3 separate regions of the Homo sapiens genome follow, and regions 1 and 3 are each linked to region 2. The links come from fine-mapping of genetic effects on gene expression. A gene starts in region 2. Each other region holds a variant in brackets. All regions are shown on one strand. Distances are from middle to middle. Region 1 overlaps PIK3C2G (phosphatidylinositol-4-phosphate 3-kinase catalytic subunit type 2 gamma). Region 2 holds the start of CAPZA3 (capping actin protein of muscle Z-line subunit alpha 3). Region 3 overlaps PIK3C2G (phosphatidylinositol-4-phosphate 3-kinase catalytic subunit type 2 gamma).

What was found. PIP is the estimated chance that this variant, and not a neighbour inherited with it, causes the effect.
Region 1: its variant is the best candidate, but not a certain one, in a credible set for the expression of CAPZA3 in unexposed skin (GTEx, PIP 0.64).
Region 3: its variant is the best candidate, but not a certain one, in a credible set for the expression of CAPZA3 in sun-exposed skin (GTEx, PIP 0.82).

What each region holds. Positions count from the first base shown.
Region 1 is chr12:18,534,783-18,541,139 of GRCh38, forward strand. It overlaps PIK3C2G (phosphatidylinositol-4-phosphate 3-kinase catalytic subunit type 2 gamma), which reads left to right. Exons shown (of 33, transcript NM_001288772.2): 25 at 3,374-3,530. Among named protein-coding and RNA genes, the nearest start is that of PLCZ1, 200 kb to the right of the region's middle. The variant A/G (reference allele first, on the strand shown) is at 3,261.
Region 2 is chr12:18,734,603-18,740,959 of GRCh38, forward strand. CAPZA3 (capping actin protein of muscle Z-line subunit alpha 3) reads left to right here and starts at 3,517. Exons shown (of 1, transcript NM_033328.3): 1 at 3,517-4,586. The coding sequence starts at 3,667. The coding sequence ends at 4,566. It overlaps PLCZ1 (phospholipase C zeta 1), which reads right to left and starts at 3,410. Exons shown (of 15, transcript NM_033123.4): 1 at 3,330-3,410; 2 at 2,759-2,907; 3 at 1,619-1,742. The coding sequence starts at 2,769.
Region 3 is chr12:18,640,907-18,647,263 of GRCh38, forward strand. The region is part of intron 32 of PIK3C2G (phosphatidylinositol-4-phosphate 3-kinase catalytic subunit type 2 gamma); the gene reads left to right. It also overlaps a transcript of PLCZ1 not described here. Among named protein-coding and RNA genes, the nearest start is that of PLCZ1, 94 kb to the right of the region's middle. The variant C/G (reference allele first, on the strand shown) is at 2,807.

The DNA of each region.
Region 1 (6,357 bases), 200 kb before region 2:
GTTTTAGAACATCAGGTGAGAAAGAGAGAGATGAAAAAAAAAAAAAAGTAGTTACAATATGAATAAAAGGTACAGAAGCAAGAACAGGTGGGACTTTGGTAAGCAAAGGTAAAACCACTAATCTAGAAAAAAAAAGTTAGGATTGTCACAGCAAGAAATATCTATAGTTTATTTTTATAGCTATAAATAAGATTTTCAATATATAATTCAAAATATAATCACAGTATAGACCATGAGAGATCAAATTTAGAATATTCCCTTTTGTCACAACCAATTTATACCTCAGATTTATAAGTAATGCTTAAATTTCAGAGATAAACTCCAACACATTAATTCTATAACATAGGAATAGGTTTACATTTCAGTGGACTGATAAATTTTATCCTAACTGAAATTTCTACATCTTACAGGAATAGATGGGATTTTGTTTCACATATGAAGTTTCTTTTCATTTATAGACAAGTTTAGGGTAATTCTGAGGTTTAAAAAAATTGCTCAGAAGTGAGCCATGAAAATCATATAGAAAAGATACAGAATTTTATTTTGTTGGATCTACTGAAAATTTAGACTATGATAATGTTTAAGCACAACTAAAATTTGTTTCTTTAATATTACTTTATATTTTATTTAATTTGTATATGTTTCTTTTGTGTATTTAACTTTCTGTTATGGTGTTTCTGCATCTGATTTCTAATAATGGTGACTATGGACAAAAGAAATGTGTTATCTCATGAACTTGAGCATAACTACAGAAACCTCCCAAGAGAAATTAATTTGATCCATCATAATTCTCCTTATTGAAAAGAGAAAAGTATATTCATCATATTAGGAGAAAAAGTTTCAGGAAGTTGTAAAAAATTAATACTCTTCTAAAATTATTTCCGAAGTTCTACTTGATATAGTAAACACAGCATAGAGAGTAGGGTGGAAAAACTATTAGAAAACTGTTACATATAAAATTAAGATATTTTTCTGATTATGAAAATCTATGATATTGCTAAAACTCTACTAAAATATTGGCAATAGTGATGAGTGAGTGAGCAATATATAAAAAATGCTATCAGCTATCGCAAGGACAAAAAACCAAACACCGCATGTTCTCACTCACAGGTGGGAATTGAACAATGAGATCACATGGACACAGGAAGGGGAACATCACACACCAGGGCCTGCTGTGGGGTGGGGGAAGAGGGGTAGGGATAGCATTAGGAGATATACCTAATGTTAAATGAAGAGTTAATGGGTGCAGCACACCAACATGGCACATGTATACATATGTAACAAATCTGCATGTTGTGCACATGTACCCTAAAACTTAAAGTATAATTAAAAAAATGCTATCAAATTCAAAGATCCACTTACGGGTTTATGCAGCAAGAGAGGTTACATGGAGTAACAGAGTAAATTAAATCTTGGAATAAGGATGAGATTTTTCTGATAGATTTTTGAAGAGACAAGGAAATTTAGTGATAACAAGGTTCAGCTATGAGAACACTTGGCTGTTTGCAGACAATACTATTTAAAATTTGGTGAGTGCTTACTACATGCTAGGCTATGTTGTAAGCACTTGCACATGCTATGACCCATTTGATTCTCTCAACCATACCAAGAGTCAAGTGCTCTTATCTCCATTTTACAAAGAAGGAGATTAGAGAACGGAGAGATTAAGTCACCCAGAGTCATAGAACTACTATAGTTAAGTGGTGAAGCCATGATTTGAAACCTGGTTCACAGGCCCACAGTTTGTGCCTCTGCAAAAGCCTCTCTCTAATGTGAGCAGTTCACAAATGTGCCACCCTCCCTATGTGTCAGGCATTTATGTACATGTACATTTCCTAAGTTAATCCTCACAGCAATTCTAAGAGTTAGGTGGTTTAGAGATGAAGGATTGAGACATAGCAGGTCCAGAATTAGAACCTATGCTATATCTCATGTTTTCAACATCTCTTCTCCCAGCTTGGCTAAAGTCAAGAACTTGTAAAATAATTCATAGAATATAGGTTGGATAAGTCAATGAAGGCCAAATAAAAAAGGATTTTGAACCAAAATTTTAAAATTTAGACCTGATACTTTAGACATAGTCCGCAGTGTATGTATGTGCTCAATAAATTTTGTTGAAGAAATGAATGAATATAAACAGAAGTGAAGGTACTGGTATTCCAGCCTTTCCTCCAGGCATTGTGGTAGCATGGATTACAAAATAAAGTTTCTAAATAAAATAATCATAGCCAAAAAACTCGAGTGTTTGTTTTATTTTAAAGATTTTGCCTGCAATTAGACCCCCCTGTCCCAAACCTGCCACAAATTGACGAAGTTGTAGCTTTCTGATATAAATATCCACACTACTGAAAGGTCTCATTAACTGTCAGATCAGTGAAATTTTTCACTCCATTGTATTTTTACTGAAATAGCTAAGCATAAGCAACAAAAAGAAAACAATTATGTTTTATTATTTAAAACAAAAATAAGAATTTCCCTCAATAATCCATGACTTTTTAAATTGCTACTTGGTCTAACCTTTCACCAAATTAGTGTCAAATTGGCCTAAGGTATCAAAACTCTGTGTTCTTATTCAATGAGTGGTAATTCCTCCAACAGGGATGTTTCCAATCCTCTCTCTGCTATTCTCTGTTAGAATTGCTAATATTTCATCTCAGCCCTATCCGTATCTTAAATGACATGATAAAAAAACTGACAAAGGTGGGGGACGTGGGACCATCTTCTCTCTGGTCTTTTGTTTTCTTATTTTTCCATCCTTAGACTACAGTGGTCAGTATTACTTACATAATGATATGGTCTACTCATATCTTCCTTTCTGACCAGCGTTTTTACTGGGTCCAGTGTGAAATAAAATATAGCTACCTTTTTTCTCCTTCACTAAGCATATGCCAGTGAATTGGTAACATCTGCTTGCTTCTTAGCTTTTACCAGAAACTTTTTTCCTAAAGGGTCATCATACAAGGAAATTTTTTTTAATACTATAAGGTCAAACACATCTGTTCGATCATATCAAAATTTAGCAGAAAATGTACTTTTTATAAAGACTCTATAAATATCAGCTTCACTATGAATTGGCCTTTATGTTACTTTTAATGAATAATATTCCCCTCCAAATGTAATTTAGAATTAAACATTTCAGACAATATAGTTGACATTGTAAAATATCTTATCCTTTTCTCTCTATTGCAGCATGGTTATTCAAAGCCTACAATTATGCAGTTTCTCAAGCTGCCTCACAATGAAGGAAATTTATCTATTAC[A/G]GTAGAGAAAAAAAAAAGAAAATTCAAATGAAAATAAGTCGTTATAACTGCTGATTTAACCTGACAAACCATTTCTCTTCCTTCGAATGATTGCTACTGTTTTTGGTTTACAGGGACCGAGCTCCTTTCATTTTTACTTCAGAGATGGAATACTTTATTACAGAGGGTGGGAAAAACCCACAGCATTTTCAAGATTTTGTGGAACTTTGCTGTCGTGCTTATAATATTATCAGAAAGCACAGCCAACTGCTCTTGAACCTGCTGGAAATGGTAAGTCCCTTGGGAAAAAAAAACAAAAATAATAAGCTTCATTTATGCCTCTGCTTCAGTAGTCTATTTTTACTAATGGCTTGGAGTTCCCCAAGGAGCTATTCGGAAGAGAAAGGAATGAGAAAACTAAGAGTACCATTGTACAGCTTATAAACGTATTTCTTAATAATTTAATATGTTCGTTCATAGTTATTGTCTCAAACATTCCTATTCGTATCAATATTGATGCAGGTAGGGGTTATCCCACTATATTTTGACTAATGTTCAAGGACAGTAATTTTAAAAATAATGCCTTCAGTCATACTAGGCATTAGGATCTTTCAAAAATGCCTTATATATACTATCTCATTTATATATCATGACAACCTAATAGTGTAGACCAGGCAAGAATTTTCCCTGGCTGTCCATTCCAAACTCCACCTTTGATCACTTGCCAATTTCCCACATTAAGAAACTGAGAGTCAAAAGTGGAAAGTGAGTTGCTAGCAACTCAGCTTTTCGTGGTATGCATTAGGTGTACTGAGTCATGGTCCTACACACTCTCTTGTGACCAACAGGGGAAAATTTAAGGTTTTATTCCACTGTTCACTTTAAAGAGATGGAGACCAGATATGTACCATGAGGGAAGAAAAATCTGATAGAAATATCTTCTAGGAGAGGGATATAGTGATTCCTCTAGGCACATACGTACACACTAGTGATTGCAGCAAACTATACATGGGAAACATACATTTGGTCTATCAGCATGGGATTTGGAGTCTATGAAAAATAACTGATTTAGAGCTTCCAGATGACAATAATTCTACCAGATGTTGTTAAGGGTACAAACATGGCAGGCAGACCTTTCTGGGTTTCAATCCTAGTTTGGCATTTTACTGGCTACATTCTTCAGGACATGTTAACCCCCAAAAGACTATTTCCTTATCTGTTAAATGAAGATAACAACATCTACCTTGTAGAGTTAATGAATAAATGACCTAGTAGTGAATTCTTTGCATGGCCCAGGCATTGTGCTAAGTGCTTTGTGTGTATTAATTGATTTAAAATTCATAACAACCCTAACAGATCATTAACATAAAGCACTTAGCACAGTACTTGCCATTTAGTAGACTTCAATTCATTTATGTTATTATACTAGATCCTTGTTAATTTATAAGGCCACTGTCCAATGTAATATCCTCTAGTCACGTTTGTTTATATTTAAATTAATTTTTATTAAACAAAATTTAAAATTCCAGTCTTCAATTTCACTGATCACATTTCAAGTACTCAGTAGCCACGTTTGGCTAGTGGCATCATATTGGTCAGCACAGATAGGAAACTTCCATCACCACAGAAAAGTTCCATTGGTTAGTACAGAACAAATGTTGACTTTGTTGCAAGGAAGATTTGATTTGGATTCTTGTTTTAACTTTCAAACAACATATTCACCTTACTTCTCTCCACTTTGCCTTGAAAGATAAGTATCTCTAAAAATATTATAAACATGTCCTTCATATGCAAAGATATTGGTTTCTTCTTGTGTAAAGTGGATATATAAAGTTCTACCCATCTCCGAAATCTTCAAGATTACTTTTCAGTAATAGCCAAGGATTCTTATTGGTAAATTTGCATTCTATCTCCCAATTCTATTAGGCCGTTTTGCAAGTATGAGATGACTACGGTTTATAATGTGTCTGTACCACAAACAAACAAACAAAAAAACCCTATAAGGATTAAGTCTGTGATTCTGACCCCATTTAAATAATAAATATCCAGGTAGTATCAAGTCTATGTCTCCTTGGACTCTAGCAAGCTCTAGCTCATGAATTCATGAGCTCTTGAGTGTTTACCACAGGCTAGAAATTGCAAGGATACATTAACATAAGAGACCCAGAGTCTTAAAATTTTCAACTTAATGAGGAAGATAAAATTTATTTACATAAAAGACCGAGGTATCCAGCATTTCTAAATGCCTATAATGATATAAATAACTACATGTGAGGAATAGTACCCAATTTTAACAATTGCTTTAACCTGCTCCAGATATTTCAAAAATAAACCCAAAACAGAAAAGCACAAATATAAGTTATGCTGTTTCTCAGGTGACACTAAAATTATGCTGATGAAAACTGAGCATGTTAAAATAATGTGAAAGAACAGCTCTTTCAGAAAGCTATCAGTGGGCTTTTTTTCTCTTGTTTAATAAACTTTTCTACATACCTTAACAAAGCATTCAGCATAAGAGTCATGATATGTTAAACAATCACCAAAGAGAATGTATAGTGGTATTTTATTTAAAAGAAGTAACTGTGGTATTTTATTCATAAGTATTAAAATAATTTATCATTAATCACTTGTTGAAAATTTCTGGAATATAGTATATCCAAAAAAACTTCTATGCTCTAATTATTCAGCTCTTTTAGGCTAAGGAAGAAAATTTGGCAGTGGAAGGCACTAATCCAGAGTAAACATATAATCTTAGATTTAGGCTCTCACAGAAATTGAAATAGAGATCAGAAGCAATGTGGACCAATTAAACTAATGAATAAATACATGTAAAACAGCACTGTGTTATTACCTCAGTTTCTGTTCATTTACCTCTCAACTCTCTTCTTCTCAACTGTGTTATCTTATGGGACTGTAGATCATCAAAGCATTTAGTGAAAGTTTCAGGACCACCCTTTCTTTGGTATAGCTTCTTATAAAATAAAACCAAGTTTAAATTTGTGAAAGACTATTTTCTACTTATGTATGTAATCTATTCATTAATTCTGTCTCAACCCGACTCTTTTATGTTAAATTCTTTAAAAAGAATTCAGTCTACTTACCATGACCCAGTTACAAC
Region 2 (6,357 bases):
AGCCTCCCAAAGTGCTGTGATTACAGGCATGAGCCACCACACCCGGCCTTGTGGTAGTTTGTTAACAAAATCTTCAGGAGTTTCTACATGTAAGATTGTGCCATCAGTGAATAGAGATAATTTTGCTTCTGCCTTTTTAATTTAATTGCCTTTTATTTTCATTTCTTGACTAATTGCTTTGGCTAGGATTTCCAGTACCATCTTGAACAGAAGTGGTGAGAGTGGGCATCCTTGCCTTTTCCCAGATCTTAGAAAAAAATCTTTTCAGTTTATTTTATATGATATTAGCTGTAAGCTTTTCATATATGGACTTTAATGTGTTAAGTTCCTTTTATACTTAATTTACTGAGAGTTATCATGAAAGGGAGTTAAATTTTGTCACATGCTTTTTCTATATTTTTGAGATAATCATGTGATTTTTATCTCCATTCTGTTAATGTGGTGTATCACATTGATTGATTTCTGTATGTTGAGCCATCCTTGCATGCCAGGGACACATATTATTTGGTCATGGAATATGATCCTTTTAAAGTGCTATAAATTTGATTTGCTATTATTTTGTTGGGGAATTTTGCATCTATGTTCATCAGGAATATTGGCCTAAAGTTTTGTTTTCTTGTGGTGCCTTTGTCCAGCTTTGGTATCCAGATGATGTTGACCTTATAAAATAAAACTGGAAGTGTTCCCTCTTCTATTTTTTAGAAGCATTTCAGAAGGATTGGTATTAATTCTTCTTTAAATCTTTGGTAGAATTCACCTGTGAAGTCATTTGGTCCTGGGCTTTTCTTCGTTGGGCAGTTTTTGATTACTGATTAAGTCTCCAAACAGGGTCTCACTATGTTACCCAGGCTGGTCTCAAACTCCTAGCCCCAAGTGATCCTCCCACCTTGGCCTCTCAAAGCATTGGGATTACAGGTACAAATCACTGCACACAGCCTCTCAGTCTCCTTTTTGTTATTGGTCTGTTTAACCTTTCTAGTTCTTCTTGGTTCAGTCTTGATGGGTTATATGGTTCTTGAAATTTCCCTTTTTTTTCTAGATTGTCCAATTTTATGGTGTATGATTGCTCTATGTGTTTTTCATTTTTGTGAGATCTGTTGTAATGTCTCCACTTTCATTTCTGATTTTATTTGACTCCTCTCTCTTTTTTCTTACTCTAAGTATTTGTCAATTTTATTTAACTTTTCAAAAAAACAAGTCTTAGTTTCCTCAATTTCTTCTAATTTTTTTCTTTTCTATTTTAGTTATTTCTGTGCTAATCTGTATTATTTCCTCCCTTCTGCTAACTTTGGGCTTATTCTCCACTCTTTTTATAAATCACTAACATCTAATACAGTTACCATTATCAGTCTGATATAATTAGACATCCAATCCTAGGTTTAATGTTAGCATTTCTGTATGCTCAGGAAATTATTCTAAACTGATATCCTGGTATTATTTCAGATTTTCTCAACAACTAATTTTACCTTCTACTGAAATGCTCTCCATCTTGATTGTAAATATAGTTAGTATAATTAATTGCTTTTCTTCTTAAGAGACTAACCTTTATATGACAATTACTGACATTGGATTAAGTTCCACCTAGGATAGGATAGGCAGGGGGTGGATGTCATCTTACCTTAAAAATCTGTTTCACATGAATATAACTGCACCGAATATCTAATTTTTCAAGTAACCTCTGAGTTTTTTCTAGGTTAATTTTTCCACCTCTGAAGTCATCCTGAATCTTTGACAAAAACCATGTAGAAGCACAAAAAAGTTAAGGAAATTCTCACAGAAAGTCATTGAATATTTAAAATTCCTAAAGAAACATTTGATTTACTGTATTATTTTTATTTTTAAAGAATATGTTTAAAGTAAATTATAGTATAATTGTATGATAAATATTTTTTAAAAAACAAAATTAAGTAGTTACTATGCTATGGTAAAGGTATGAAAGGGCATAGCACAGTAAAAATACAAAAAAAAGAATTAAAGTTAAAATTTGAGAATTGAAGTCATTACTTAGAACATACATTAAAACATTATAACAATCTATTGCCTGAAGGCATGAAGTTGGAAGGCAGCTAGACTTCAAGATCGCCTCTCACCTGACCTCTCTGTTTTAGTTCTCTCTTCCAGAAAGGTGAGCAAATTAACCCTGAATCTTAAGGAAAGTGGAAGCATTAGATGAATTCCTAATATGCCACCGAACACAGTTTCTGCTACTTAGTGTTCAATAAATAGTAACCATGACTGATAAAGTTATTATTACTACATTAGTCCAATGCCCAGCTACACACACACTCAAGACAGTACCATCAAAAAGCATCAGAAATACCATGGTGAGTGTATATTTGGTATGAAAAACGAAAAAAATTTTTAAAAGCTTACTTATCATAGATAAACTACAAAAACTAGGACACTTCCATTTGAAAAACTAAGATCGAAATGAGATAATGACAATTATCACTAAAATTATAAAAGGTATAGGTAAAAATTGTGCAAAACTACTAAGTTTCAGATTGTTAGAACGAATTAATGAGATCTCCTTAAATTTAATAGTTATGACTTAATCCAGCAAAGCTCATGTTCTTGTAAGAAAAAGATACCAGAATGCAGGGAAAGTTAGAAAAGCTCAGAACAAACAGGGAAAAGCAGTTCAACTTAAATGAAGAGGACTTAAATTCAGAACTCCTCGAAAAGAATAACAGCATCAAGTAAAGAGGATAAGTAGGAGAAAGAAGAAGAGGAGCAGAAAGAAGCTCTCAATGGATATCTCATTTCCATAGTTTCATGACCTGTAGAGCCGTTTCTCCTCACTTAGAAGTCTTTCCCCAGTAGGTGCTGTCATGGGTTCCAAATACAATTAACTCTGCCCCTTTGCAGAAAATAATTTCTTGATACTCATCAGCTGTTACCACTTTTCTAGGGAGAAAGCAGAGAACACACAGTGGTTTTTTTTGCCTTCGTTCTTTGAAGCTAGCTCACACTTAACCATAGAAACAGTATGCAAGATGTGGTACCTGCACTACCCTGCCCTTGAAACTGTTTGGCTTCTTACGTTCTGACCACCTCCAAACCCACAATATTTGAAAACACAGCTTTCCCTGATGTCTGGCATTTTTCCATGAACTGCCATTGTATCTCCTTTTATTTTTTACTACTTTGTTTAAACCCCTCAAACCTTTCATCATAATATGCTTCCAGTGGGTTTGGGCAGCTACTCTGAGAGCCTGAGTATAAATCAACACCATTGTGATTCCTGAAGTTGCAAAGTGCTGTCACTCTTGAAACTTTGGGCTGCTTCTCTAGATCGTTGACAACATATAATGCACACAGAGACACACCACTTTCGAAGAAGACTGTTCAGGAGGCTAAGTTCTTAAAATCTTCAAAAGAGGTATAGCTGGTTGGCTGGGCACCACACTGTCAGGTGACTGTCATTTTTTCCTTTTGGTCTGAATTCCCATTGTGATATCATCAGAGGTTCCACACTTCACAAGGAAAGCTTCTTATGACCTCATCAGGAGGCTCAGACCTTGCCAGACTGCCTGCTTTCATGGATAGACATAAAAACCTTCAGCTTGAATGTTAACACCTTGATGGGAAAGGTGGCTCATGGAATGTTTTCTTATCCTTTGAACACTCCTCATTTCAGAAGCTTTGCTTCTGTTGCAACCAAACATGACACTTAGCGTGCTGAGCAGGAAGGACAAGGAAAGAGTAATTCGCAGACTGTTATTACAGGCCCCTCCAGGGGAATTTGTAAATGCCTTTGATGATCTCTGTCTGCTTATCCGTGATGAAAAACTTATGCACCACCAAGGTGAGTGTGCAGGCCACCAACACTGCCAAAAATATTCTGTACCACTCTGCATCGATGGAAATCCAGTACTCTTGTCTCACCACAATGTAATGGGCGACTACCGATTTTTTGACCATCAAAGCAAACTTTCTTTCAAATATGACCTGCTTCAAAATCAGCTGAAAGACATCCAAAGTCATGGTATCATTCAGAATGAGGCAGAATACCTGAGAGTTGTTCTTCTGTGCGCCTTAAAACTGTATGTGAATGACCACTATCCAAAAGGAAATTGCAACATGCTGAGAAAAACTGTCAAAAGTAAGGAGTACTTGATAGCTTGCATTGAAGATCACAACTATGAAACAGGAGAGTGCTGGAACGGACTTTGGAAATCTAAATGGATTTTCCAAGTTAACCCATTTCTAACCCAAGTAACGGGAAGAATATTTGTGCAAGCTCACTTCTTCAGGTGTGTCAACCTTCATATTGAAATATCCAAGGACCTGAAAGAAAGCTTGGAAATAGTTAACCAAGCTCAACTGGCTCTAAGTTTTGCAAGGCTTGTGGAAGAGCAAGAGAACAAATTTCAAGCTGCAGTCTTGGAAGAATTACAGGAGTTATCCAATGAAGCCCTGAGAAAAATTCTACGAAGGGATCTTCCAGTGACCCGCACTCTTATTGACTGGCACAGGATACTCTCTGACTTGAATCTGGTGATGTATCCTAAATTAGGATATGTCATTTATTCAAGAAGTGTGTTGTGCAACTGGATAATATAAAGAATTGCTCCTGGTAACTATCTTGATTTGACTTGTTTGTGTTTCTTGGGAATGGTTATTTTCCTAAAATTGAGCAATCTGTAGAGATGTCTCTCACTTAGCCAATGCAAATTTAAATGGGAAAAGTGTAGCAAGTAATTTTACTTGGGGAATATTTATGAACAAGGCAAGAAAGTGTAAAGTAACTGTGTTTCATGGTGGTGACCATCATAAAGACCAAGACATTTGTTAGAAACTAAAATAGTTTTATAGAATCTGGGATTCCAGAAATAGTATAGAGGTGGCCAGGGTTAAGGCTGTGTGTGGGTGTGTACGTGTGTGTGTGTGTGTGTGTGTGTGTGTGTGAGAGAGAGAGAGAGAGAGAGAGAGAGACTTTTGACTGTTTCGAACTGAAAAGGTATACAAATGAATATCACTCCACAAATGATATTTTACATAACTCAATTCAGTCCTAGACCATCCACGAGATGGGGAATTTCAATAAAAGACATTAGGTTTGGATTTTCCACAAAACCAACAGATATCAAAAATCTAGCTCAGATGAAGGACTATTAGTAATTTTGGCTCCTCTTCCACTCTACTTTCTTCCCCTCAAGAATTGGGGTTACTCAAAATCCCTGGCTTGTCTGATAACTAACATGGTCTTCCAAGCCAACCAGAGAAGCCTGACTTCCCAAACTTTTACAGCCAGGCTTTTGTGAAGTCGTCACTGTAAACACTTAGAAGTACTTATTACATAACATGGCTTGTGCTAAATATTTTGCATAACATTTTTCATCACTAATCTGGTACTAGTATTATCTCCGTTGTACCTAAGAAAAACCTAAGTTCTCAAGTTGTTCACATCTTCCAGACACATAGTGTCACAGTTCACTTGTGCTGCTATAACAAAATACCATATATTGAGTAACTCACAAATAACAGGAATTTATTGGTCGCAGTTATGGAGGCTGTGAAGTCCAAGACCAAGTTGCTAGCAGATTTAGTGCCTAGTAAAGGTGTGTTTCCTCATAGATAGGACTTTCTGACTGTGACCTTACATGGTAAAAGGGGCAAAGCAGCTCTGTAGAACTTCTATTAATGGCACTAATATCGTTTATGAGGGCTCCACTCTCATGGCCAATCACCTCCCAAAGTCCTCACCTCCTAATACCATCACCTCGGGGACTCAGTTTCAACATATAAATTTTGAGGGACACAAACAATCAGACCGTACCACATAGTGACAAGTGTATCTGACTTAGTGCTCATGCTTCAGGGTACAACAGTTCCCCATGGAAGCCTATTTCATTATGAGTTATGGACTCTGATGTACATTGATTTTGCCAAGCATTCCACCTTAAAGGATATCCCAGAAGAAATGGAACTTGTGACAGCTGTTTTCTAGCCAGAGTAAATCACCTATACACTCACCCTACCACTATTCCTAGCAATGTTACTGACCACTGGTATCTGCTCTTTCAATAAATTCCCAAATGTAAAACTCTTTAACAAGATTACAGTACAGCAGTAGGTAGGCCCCATCCTCCAATTCTGATTTATCTAAGAAGCAAAGTGTTTTGTATTTTGTGTTTATGCAATTGAAAAACAGTTCTAATTCTACTTATTAACATTGGAGCATTCAGATCCCGTGCAAGAATTTCTAAACCTCAAACCTCCCCAGCTGATGATTCTTAGAGAATCTCAGGAGAATAACCTGGGATTTATCTTTAAAAATATACATTACTGGGGCCCATCCTAGGATTCTGATTTAGTAGGCTGGGAAATCTGCATTTTAGCAAGTATCAGAGG
Region 3 (6,357 bases), 94 kb before region 2:
TGGGTATAACAGTAAATCTCATAAAATCTCTTTTGAAAAACTAAAAAAATAAATACAAAATACAAATGGAAGTTAATGTATATTATAAATAGCTCTCTAATTTATTTGTAATGTGCAATTCCCTAACTTCTTTCTAAGGCAAGCCCCTACATTTATTCTCTTGATTCCATCCTTTCCCATCTCCTCTGCACCTTGCTCAGCTGCTTATTTGTGTTCCTTTTCTTATGGCTGTCTCATCCACAGGATCCTCCACTCAGAAATATTAAAAAACAAAAACAAAAACTCCCCAACTCAGGCTTGCTAAGCAAATTTTCTTTCCCTCACTATCACCTCCAAACTTATCCAAAATTAACCCACATGATCTGCTTTCCCTTCATCTCTCCCTTTCACCCTTGAATGCTTTGCAATGTGGATTCTGACCTTTATTGATAGTACTTTATTCAAGGGGCATCAATAGACTCCTAACTGCTAAATCCAAAGAGCCCTCAGGCTCTCGTGCCTGGATCAGTTATACAGCAGCACTACTGACCACAGCCCCATTCCTGAAACCTCCGTTTTGCTTTTTGAGTTGTACCTTTTCTTAATTCTCTTCCATTTTCTCTACCACTTATTTCTCTACCACTTATTTCCATTTCTCTACCACCTCTCTCATTTTCCTTCATTGTTATTCTTTCTCTTAAAATATTATTGTTTACTGAAGTCACATGATCCATCCTCATCTCCTCTTCCTGTACATACTCTCACATTTATCTTGTGGATCAACAAAGTTTTATTTATCACCTATAGGTAGGTTGCATCTGAATTTACTCCTAAAACCCTGGCTTCTCTCTCTCAAGCTTTTTTTTTTTTTTTTTTTTGAGATGGAGCCCTTCACTCTGTGTCTAGCAGGCTGGAGTGCAGTGGCGCAATCTCAGCTCACCACAACCTCCACCTCCCAGATTCAAGCAATTCTCCTGTTTAAGCCACCCGAGTAACTGAGATTACAAGCTCCCACCACCACATCCAGCTAATTTTTGTATTTTTAGCAGAGACGGGGTTTTGCCGTGTTGGTCAGGCTGGTCTCAAACTCCTGACCTCAGGTGATCCACCGCCTCAGCCTCCCAAAATGTTGGGATTACAGGCGTGAGCCACCATGCCCGGCCTCTGTCACACTTCTACCTGATTACTGGGGAGCTCCATCTGAATGTCTCATAGGCACTTTTAGACCAGGCTTTCCTCCATTCATTCTTTCTTTTATAGATGGTACCTTTGGGGTCGAAACTAAGAAACTCTTTGTCTAGCACTGAGTCTCAAAGATTTTCTCTTATAGTTTTTTCTAAAAGTTGTATAGCTTTACATTTTACATTTAAGTACATTACCCATTTTGAGTTAAATTTTTAATAAAATGTGATGTTTAAGTCAAGGCTCTTTATTTCCCCACTGTGGATACCAATTATTCCAGTACTATTTGTTGAAAAGGCAATTCTTCCTCCACTGAATTTCTTTTGCACGTTTGTCAAAAATCACTTGGGAATATTTGTGTTCTTATACTCTTTTTGTTATCCCATACTTAGCCATATTTTCAGATCACATCAGACAGCTTGTCATTCCCTGAATGGACTGTAGGATTTTGTGATAGAACTCATGCCACCATTCACCTCTCTCTGCCCTTCTCTGCCTGCTTTGAGACTGACCTCAGATGTGAACTCTGCAAACACTGTCACCTCGTGGACTCACACCACACTTATAATCCTTTCTTTAGTCCTACACGGTTTTTCTTCTAGTATATCATAAACTTCTCCAGGGCGGGTTAAATGTCTTATCCTTTTTAATACTTTTAACACTTAGTTACCTCTAAAATGATGTGTAATAAATATTCGGGGCAGTTTTATAAGTGACACTGTGTGTGTGTGTGTGTGTGTGTGTGTGTGTGTGTGTATAAAATGTAAATACATGTATATACTGCATATATATATAGAGAGAGAGAGATTCTCTAAACTGGTAAGGAAAAATATTTTGACACTATTATTTGTCATGATGTCAACAGTGAGAAGCATACACTTCCCAACAATATATCACTGTTTCTTTTCATACTTTTTGAGTACAAGTCTCCATGCCTCACTATCAAGAAACTTCTCAGACCCTGTGTTAGGCATAAGCATTTTCAGTATAAGAAAACATATAATAACAAGAAACCACTAACAATTCAGAACAATTTAAATAAACTTGTGTTTTATTTCAAGCTTTATGTATTATAAGAAAACAGTAGTAAATTATATTCATGGAAAATTATTTTATAATTCTTGCTGTGCACATAACTTTTCTGAGGGCTTGCAATACCTAGGTCCTCACACATCCATAACCCACTGATTAAAACTCACTACAAATCTTTCTCAATTGATCTATACTTGTAGCATGAATAGACACTTTATACTTTGGACACATTTTAAATTGCTTCGAAAGCCATGGTCCATGCATAGCCAATTCCGATGAGAACATAGTCCAATCAAGCAGAAATTTGAAGTAGTGTGTGTATAAGTGATGATTTTAGTAGTAGTCATTAGGACAGTAAGAGGTTTCTAATCATATAAACAATTCTGGCAAAGAAGCTGGGTGAATTCCAAGAGCCAAAAGGAAAAAAAGGCAACAACGGTTAATTTAATTTTTTTCATTCTATGCCTGTATCAACACAACAAGAATATTTATAAGAAATGCAAAGAAGCACACTAGATGTTAACTCTGATTTTACTGTCTCTTGCCCTCAGTTGTGATGTAGGATCCCATCTTTGTGTCAAACTCCTCGATCACTTGTGTGCAACCTCAAGAG[C/G]ACCTTACTAGATGTCTTTACCAATAAGCCCAGTGCTTACTAGAGAGCCCAGTGAGTTATCACAGGGCATCTACCTTGTTTTAAACTTTTCCTCCACTTCCGCCGCCTCACTGAGTACTGCTGCATCAACCACTCACCACAGCTGGGATTTCTCAAACTGTAAAAGCCGTGTACTGTTCTTGAAGTGGGAGAGGATGACCTCACTCTCCTCTTTATATAAATCTCTCAGAGGAGTACAAAGAAGATATTACACTGCATACCAATGTCTTACAAAGCCTTTTGTGAAAATAGTTCTTTTTATTTTTATTCCTATCCTCCTTTCTCCTTAATATCCAGAGATGAGAGGGGCTGGGTCGGGGACACAGAAAAGTGACAGAGTCTCCACCCTTCCCATACTAAGGCTTTGATGCAGGGCCAAGCTTGTCTATTTGACACTTCGCAGAGTGAGCCCCAATAGGCTTCATCAGCAGTCTCCCTGAAAACCCCTGTCATGTACAAATCCCAGTGATAGGCATGGCTGGTCTCAAGATGGGTCTGGGGCTGGGGGTGTGAGTGCTCAGGGAACTGCCATACAGCTTGAAGAAGCAGAGGTGGGATTCCGGGCTCCAAAGCCTCTTTCCACGCCACTACTTTTGCCATCTTCTTAAAAACCATCATTTTTCACACAATTCATTAGAAATACAGAATTTCTACCCTATGACAGAATTACATGCTTATAATCAATATATTTTGTATATTGTAACCTTTTCTTATATATTATTCTGTTGTAAGGTGTAAAGGGAAAATTAGAAAGAACAGAACAGGAACGTTCTATGCATTTTACATCCCTTAAAATCTCCTGCAGAATATACAGTGATTACTTAGCACAATGCCAAGTATATGGCACACTCAGTAAGCTATAGTTATTGTTATCTGTGTTATAATATTATTGCAATTTCAACATGATGAAAATTGTATTTGTAAGTGAAGACAATGTGACCCAGAGGTTACACAACTAGATGTCAAGCCCAGAACTGCCTGATTCCAAAGCTCATGGTTACCGCACTACACTATGCTGTTATTCCTACCTGTCTCCTCCCACGCAGTACCCCTGTTCTCGCTTTTGAACTCTTTCTTTCATTATCCTGCCTCCTCTACCACTTCCCACAAGCACTAGAGACACTTCAGTTCCTATCTTATTGTCCTCTCATTTCAATCATGAAAATACACTTTAGAATTATTTACTAGACCCTTGTGTCAACTAATGTTCAGTAAATTCTTGGAATGTTCAGTATATGTTAATAGATATTAATTACCTTAAGTGTTTTCTATTAGACGTAATAATTCCAAACCCACACATTTAGTTATTTGTCAGAAGGTAGTAAAGACTTAACTCATGCCTATAGGTAAAAATTATTAGAAAAAGAAATTAAAAGAGCTATTTATTTTTGGTTCTGAGTATGTACCAGAACCATTTTTTTTTGTTCTGAGTATGCAGAATATATATTAAATCCTTTGACGAAAAGGTCTCAAAGAATATAATCATCTCTGTACTTCGCTAACATTAGCCACTAATTATTCTTTGCTCAGTTGAAAAGAGTACTTACTATTTAACAACATCATGGATGCACCAAAGCAATCAGAATAGATATTTATCATCTATAATGTGCAATGATTACAGGTTTATAAAACTTCAGTCACTTTTAAGAAAATAACTTTTCTTAATGAAGCAGAGGGAAAAAATATATGAAGTAATAAAAACTTTGGAAGTTCAAATGTTTGTATTTTAACCAGGAAAGCAATTAACTCCTAAAGTCATTTCTTGAAGCTTTCAGCTTGCTAAATACCTGGAAGACTCAATTCTGTCTGGAAGGGTTTTCTCCAGTCAATTGATGCAAAATACTAAGAAACAACTGTTCCTTTTTGTGTATTTGATGGATCTTTTTCAGCTATAATTTACTGGTGTCTAATATGTTCCAGGCTTTGTAGCAAGGCTTATATTCATTATCTCATTTCTTCCTCCCTATAATGCTAAAAGGTAAGGATTATTATCATCATTATACAAATGAGAAAACACACAGTTGACAACAGATTCATGAAAATATAAATTATTGATATGTTTTTTAAAAACTTACAATTTATGACTTATTCATGCAATTCACAGAGTCCTTAGCCAGACTTCCCCATTTTTCTGCATCATATACAGTCACACTTTGAGGGTTCCTTTCTGTTTTCTCTGTAAAATAAGAGAGGAGTTCATCAGCTGAACATGATGTAGGAAGAAAAATGGAGAATAGTTCAGACAGCTCAAAATACCCACTTAGAGAAAAGGAAAAGGAGTTTACTCTGAAGTCCTAGAAAGATTTCCAGGCAGCATTGGGCATCCAGTTGTTAAAAAGCATGAATTACAGTGGTAGGGTTCTGAGATTTTTTAAGGCAACTCTTAAAATCCTTTATTATCCCAGGAAAACTCAATAGATGAAATGAAATTGTTTCATGCAGATTTTATTTAATGAACATGTATTTTCATAATTAAAACATCAGTAATTTTGAATAAATAAAAGTAACCACAGTATTACTCCTGCATATGTACAAGAAAATATCATTGTGAATGAGCAACACCAGAAAACTAAACCATAATCTCCTGTATGGAATGAGAGTAAAATTCTGGAAGAAGAGGTAGCCAAGAACACTCACATGGATCAGGGTAGACCGCATTCGCATATCATATTGTATCTCATGCCCTTTGATTGAACCTATTTACTTGGTAAGTGAATCATTGTTCAGAGTCACTAACAGATTGACCTGGAACTGAATTTCATTGATAACGTAATGAAAGGTAAGCCTATGCTGTACAAAGTACTGGAAGCTAAATCCATGCTCACAGGGGAGGCCACCCAGTGAACTCAGAGGGCTGCCCTCTCAAGTTGTCTCTTCTGCTTCTTTTTGGCATATATTGAGAAAGTTTCTATCTTGTGACTTGGCTGTAAAAAGCAGGCAAGTTTGTAGCAGCATATGAAATTCCTTTTCTAAATGTGTTCTAAGACATTTCCCTGGTAACCATGCCAGATTTCCACTCAGCTCTCTCCTCCTTTCATGATAAATAACTAATTTCTTAGCGGTACTATGCCTTTACGTTGCTTTACCACTGCAGGTTGCCGATGGACCTGTAACTTACTTCCTGAACATTATAAAAGGACAGCTGACCAGATTCCTTTTGAAAAAAAAAGTCACAAAAAAAGAACAAGACGTGAAACTGTATATACAGCATAATTACAAGTCAGATTCTGAATAAGTGATTATATATAGAAAACAAAAAGAACATCAAAATGTTAACTGTAATTGTCTCCCAATGGTGAAAATTCCAATTATTTTCTTCCTTTTTGGTATTTTTTTTTGTTTCATGCAGATTTTATTTAATAAGCATGTATTTTCATAATTAAAAATTAGTAATTTTGAATAAATAAAAGTAACCACAGTATTATGCCTGCATATGCACAAGAAAATGTCATTGTGCTGCATTTAAGTAGCACAGGAAAATCATAGAAATTGGTCTGTTTCATGGCCACAGA